2 separate regions of the Homo sapiens genome follow, and region 2 is linked to region 1. Evidence: fine-mapped expression QTL. Tissue or cell type: caudate. Region 1 holds a variant in brackets; the other region holds the start of a gene. All regions are shown on one strand. Distances are from middle to middle.

Region 1 (2,500 bases):
CCCTCTACCCACCACCACCAAGAGGCCGCTGGGGGCACCGCCATGGGACCCTAAGACAGGGAGGAGCTCCGCTTCAGATTCCTGCTGTCAAACACCTCCTCCGAGACCCCTCCATGCAAACATCCTGGAGCAGGGCAAGCCCACTGCTTCTGTATTTGTATTTATGTTGTTGTTATTAATGATACCAACCCAGCCTTGACAGGCTCTTCCAGCCCTTGAGAATCAACCCTATCTTTGGACCCTGGGCACAGGCTCCAGCACACAGATATTCCCCAGCCCTGCCTCACACTCACCTCCTTCTCTCCACAGATGTTGCTGATGATGGAGCTGGAGGCTGGGCTGGACGATGGTCCGAGGACAGCGACCACCCCCTTGGGGAGGATCTGACACACTGCAGCCAGCGGCAGGGACAGGGAAAGAAGCAAAGCACTCATCAGGTCGGGCTTGCGCCATGGCCCAGTCCTCTCCTCTTCACCCGCTGCCCCCTCACCTTCTGCACACCCGCTGCCCAGGCCCCTGCTCCAACCCTTCGAAACCCAGAGTCTCTCCTTCTCCCCTGGACGACTGGGCTCCAGGACAGTTTTATTGGAGTTTATGGGCAGCATTAAATGAGGAAATGACCCAGGTTATGACAACATACGGCCATAGCCAACAGGGTGTATAAATTGTCTGGACTGTCACAGAAGGACAGAGGCTAATGGAACAAACCTGCAGATTCCATCCCACGGCCTGGCCTGGCCTGCAGGGGGGTAGGGGGAGCCCCAGCACAGCTGCTGCATTAGTCCCCCCAAATATAAAGAGAGTCTGGGAGAAGGAAGGCAGGCAGGCAGGCGGGGGTATGAAGGAGGGCGAGGATGACGCAGACAGGAAGAGAGCAGGGGTGGCTAAAGTCAAAAGGAGCGGAGGCAAGAAAAAGGGAAAGAAAATGGGAGGCAGGGAGAAAG[C/T]GAGAGGCAGAAAGAAGTTTCATCTGTCAATGCCCCCGTCGTTCACTTCGTCCTGAAGCCTGGCATGTTCCCTCCCCCAGGTAGAGCAGGTCCCGTCCTGACCGACCAGCATGCCTGGCATCTGGCCTTTCCCTCCTGGACTGAACACTCGCTCACCTGTCCGGGATCAGTTCTGACACCACCTTCTCCTTAGACCTTCCTGGGCTTATTTATGTATTTATTTATTGAGATGGAGTCGCACCCTGTCACCCAGGTTGGAGTGCAGTGGTGTGGTGCGATCTCGGCTCACTGCAACCTCCGCCTCCCAGGTTCAAGCAATTCTCCTGCCTCAGGAGTAACTGGGATTACAGGCACCCACCACCACGCCTGGCTAATTTTTGTATTTTTAGTAGCGACGGGGTTTCACCATGTTGGCCAGGCTGGTCTTGAACTCCTGACCTCAAGTGATCCACCTGCCTTGGCCTCCCGAAGTGCTGGGATTACAGGCATGAGCCACCGCACCCCACCACTGGGCTCCTTTAGATGGAATTAACACTGCCTTGGGCTCCCAAGGCCTGGGGTTCATACCTCTAGTCTAAGACACTGTATCTATTTGGGTTTGTTGTTTAGTGCTCTCCTCTCACTAGATTTCAAACCTCTTGAAGACAGGAACTGAGCCACATTTATCTCCCAATCCCCACTTCTCATCTCTTCAGTGTCCAGCACAATGCATTCTAGAGAGTAGGAGCCCAGCTCAGATTTGCTGTGTGAATGTCTAAAGGAATGGGATGTGTAATCAGAGGAGGGGGAGAGAATCTAAGATTTTAAAATGCTAGAGACTGAGAAAGGAAGGATGGGAGAAAGAGGGAAACACAGTGAGAGAGGACAGGAAAGAATTCTCCGTGCACACACTGTGGTATCAGAGCCAAGGGGCCGTCCCTCAGAAAATGCAATCGAGGTTCCCCACTGCATCCTTGTCTGCAAAACTCAAGGCTTAACTCCATATGTATTTTCTTCCTACTTGTATTAGGAGTCAGGCAGAGCAATTTCCCTGGCCTAGCAATTGAGGTTAAGGGACTAGTACAAGGTTTCTTACTGAGCCAGCTGTAAAGCCACACCTGCCACATGGACGCTCTTTCTTCTGGGTTAGAGTCCAATACAGCCAGGTGATCATCTGAACGGGGTACAGGCAGCAAGGCAGAACACCAGGGTTCAAATCCCAGCATTGCAATTTACCATATGAACTATAGATCTTGGAGTCTTCTCTTAGCCTATGGCTTGGGCAGGCATCCCACAACATCCCAAAATCTCAGCTGACTGGAGGACTCATCAGTACTAAGTGTCTGGCCAAAGTAGTGATGATCAGGCTTCATCTTTGAAGAGTCTCTTCAAATTCCAAGCTACTTCCATGGGGGTTATCTCATGTGACCTCAGCCAACTTAACTCTTACAGCCCACTAGGTGCTTGAAGTTCATCATCCCCTCAGATCCCTACAACTGCCTTGGGGGAGTGGGGTCTTATCTCCTGATTTTACTGGTAAGGACACAGCACCCCAGAGACGTGAAGTGCCTCCGCTC
Region 2 (2,739 bases), 300 kb after region 1:
GCAGGGCTCAGTCCTCCTGACCAGCCCTCAGACCTCTTGGCCTGGTCTTGACAGCTGCCCACTGCCTGGCAAAAGGGCCCAGCTGTGCTCAGAGCTCCCCTCCTCTTCCCAGACAACCCAGACCCTTGGGAGACATGCCCAGGAGAGCCACTGGAGGGAGGCAGGGAGGTGGCACCGCGTGGCATCACCAGACAACAGCACCAAGAGGAAGATGGCAGCATCAAGTACAGATGCCAAGAGCCACGCAGCCCAAGGTCCAGCCCGGGAGTGGCTCGGCCCGCATTGCCCCACCACTGCCAGGCAGACGGGCCAGAGGCGCCCGGGGCCCAGCCCCCTCGGCCGCCTCCTCCACCACCCCAAGGCCCTCAGCCAACTCTCCCCAGGCTCCAACTCCTCCCCTCACTTTGCTCAGCTCAAGGGAGCCAGGGAAAGAGACACAGGTGCTCTCAGTGCCTTGAACCCCCTGTCCCAGCTGTCGCCTGCACGCCCTCCACCCCAGCCAGGTCGGAGCGCACAGCTCTGCCAGTCCTCACTGAAGAGAATCTAAATCAGCTCCCCTCCCCCTCCGCCCCAGCCCCCTCCCCCATCACGCGCCCATTGCAGGTCTCTAGAGTTTCTCCCTCACTTCCCACTCGGATGAACTAGGGTGGGATGGGTGGGAGCCCCATTCTCCCCGGGAAAGAGGATCATTTCTGATAGGACGCTGGTTCCCCCAAGCAAGGCGGTGTGCAGGGTGGGGGGGTGTGGTGGTGGCCCGAGTCCAGTGCAGGGGCAGGGGGCAGTCGAGGCAGATGGCAGTGAGGAAAGGGGGAGGGGGCTTGGTGGGATGCCAGGCTGAGCCGGGATGGGGGGCTGCAGCCGGGGAACAGAGGCGCTGGGAGAAGCGGAGGGTGACGAGGTGTAGGGGAGACGCGCCAGGCTGGGAAGGGGCTGTCATCCCTGCAGGGGACAGAGGCAGGGCTGGGAGTTGCACGGGGAGGGGGAGGACCAGAGCGGGAGGACCGCGAGCCCGGGGAAGGGATGCGGAGGGAGGGAGACGGACCGGGGTGAAGACTGGAGGAACTACGGGAGCAGAGCGGTGGGGGGTTCGGCGGCGAATCTGGAGACGCAGGGACCGAAGTGCCAGGGACCGGGCTGGCGGGAGGCGGGAGCGGGGAGGAGGGCGCGGGGGCGGGGGCCGGGGCAGGGGTGCGGGGCCGCGGCCCCCGAGGGCAGGAGCGGCGGAGACGTCAGAAGTCGGGGTGCGGGAAGGGCCAGCGCGGAGGGGACTCGGGGGCGCGGGGGCAGCGCAGGGAGCGGGCCGGGGGCGCCGCGGGGGGCCGCTGCCCTTACCTGGTCGGCTCCGCACTCCGGGGGCTGAGCCGGGGGCCGGGCGCTGCCGGGCCGGCCGCGGGGCTGCTGTTGGCCGTTTTTCCTCTTCCGCAGCAGCCGTGGCGGCTCCAGCCCGATCCGCCCGCAGCTGAAGGCAGTCTGTGTCCGGCTGCGAGCGAGCCCGGCGCGGGGAGCGCGGGAGGAGCGCAGCGAGGCGCGGGGCGCCGCCCGGCGGGCAGCTGGGGAACTGCTGCGGCCCCGCGCACGGCCGGCCGGGGGGGCGCCCCTTCGGGGCCGGGCCGGAGCCCCGCGGGCAGCTGCACGCGCCCCCCAGCGCCCCTCGGAGCGTCGCCCGGGAGCCCAGGCGCGGGGGCGGCGGGGGCGGCGGGAACGGCGGGGGCTGCTGCGGGCAGGGCGGGCGCGGGTCCGCGCGGCCGGGGGCAAACTTGCGGCTGCCCGGGGGCCCGGGGCCGAGCGAGAGGCGCCCGGCTGGGGAGCGGCGCCCGGCAGAGGCTAGGGGCGCGCGGCCAAGCGGGCTCTGCGAGGTACGGACCTCAGGTGGGGAACCCGGCGCAGCCCGCACACTCCACCGCCCTGCGCAAAGGGGCAGCCCGCCCCGGCCCCGAGGAGTTATTAGCCCGGCGGCTTCAGCGAGCAAGGGGCGCCCCCTGGTGGCATTCGGGAAACAGCGCGGGGGACGAGCGTGCCCCGTTAGAAGAGACTGCGGCCTCAGTGGTGCGGAAGATGGAGAGGTGGAGGTTTCATGGGACGAGACAAGAGCACCTTGTTCAGGAGACTGAAGAGCAACAGCTTGCATGGAGTCATTCCAGAGCACTGTTGTATACATACCAACATCTTGGGAGGATCTCATGTTACGCATGAAGATCCTGAGGCTAGGAGAGGTGAAGGGACCAGGCCAAGAACACACGGGGAGCAAGTGGCAGGACCCAGGAGGCAACCCCGCTTTCTGACGCGCGGTTCATTTCAGTACACCGTGTGGTTCATCCTAATACAACAGAGTTGCCCTTAGGAGGAGGCTGGGTGAAGAGGGAGTCCTGGGGGAATAGGAGGGAGGGCAAGGGACACGTGACCCCCTCAAACCTATTAGCTCCCTCTTATCCAACCCGCAGAGTCTCTGTCTTGGGCAGACCACCAAACTGATCACACCGGCCCTCTCACCTTCAATGGCCTGTATCCCCACACCCAACCACCAGCACTCCCACAATCTCATTAAGCTCTCTGTGAAGGGTTTGTTCACAGACGTCCTTGGTCAGGTCTCACGCATGAGGCATACTATCGGGACTATAGACTGTTCTGGACGTTGCATTCCCCGGGGAGGGCTGGCTGGCTAGCCTGGGCGCGTACTGGGCCTCCTGCTTCAGGAGTCGTGCCTATCCCTCCCCCAGCTCCACACACTGGCTGGATGAA

Alleles and levels. Positions count from the first base shown, and alleles are read on the strand shown. Sizes are in standard deviations (SD) of each study's normalised expression.
For the expression in caudate of the gene that starts at base 1,472 in region 2, T is the high allele of the variant in region 1 and C is the other (small effect, 0.22 SD a copy in GTEx).

What was found. PIP is the estimated chance that this variant, and not a neighbour inherited with it, causes the effect.
Region 2: it holds the start of GRIK4, and the variant in region 1 is fine-mapped to the expression of GRIK4 in caudate (GTEx, PIP 0.97).

Annotation. Positions count from the first base shown.
Region 1 is chr11:120,813,269-120,815,768 of GRCh38, reverse strand. It overlaps GRIK4 (glutamate ionotropic receptor kainate type subunit 4), which reads right to left. Exons shown (of 21, transcript NM_014619.5): 5 at 294-391. It overlaps LOC105369532 (a long non-coding RNA gene), which reads left to right. Exons shown (of 3, transcript NR_133008.1): 2 at 310-437. Among named protein-coding and RNA genes, the nearest start is that of TBCEL, 210 kb to the left of the region's middle. The variant C/T (reference allele first, on the strand shown) is at 945.
Region 2 is chr11:120,510,481-120,513,219 of GRCh38, reverse strand. It overlaps GRIK4 (glutamate ionotropic receptor kainate type subunit 4), which reads right to left and starts at 1,472. Exons shown (of 21, transcript NM_014619.5): 1 at 1,333-1,472. RefSeq lists silencers at 1,402-1,601, 1,782-1,861.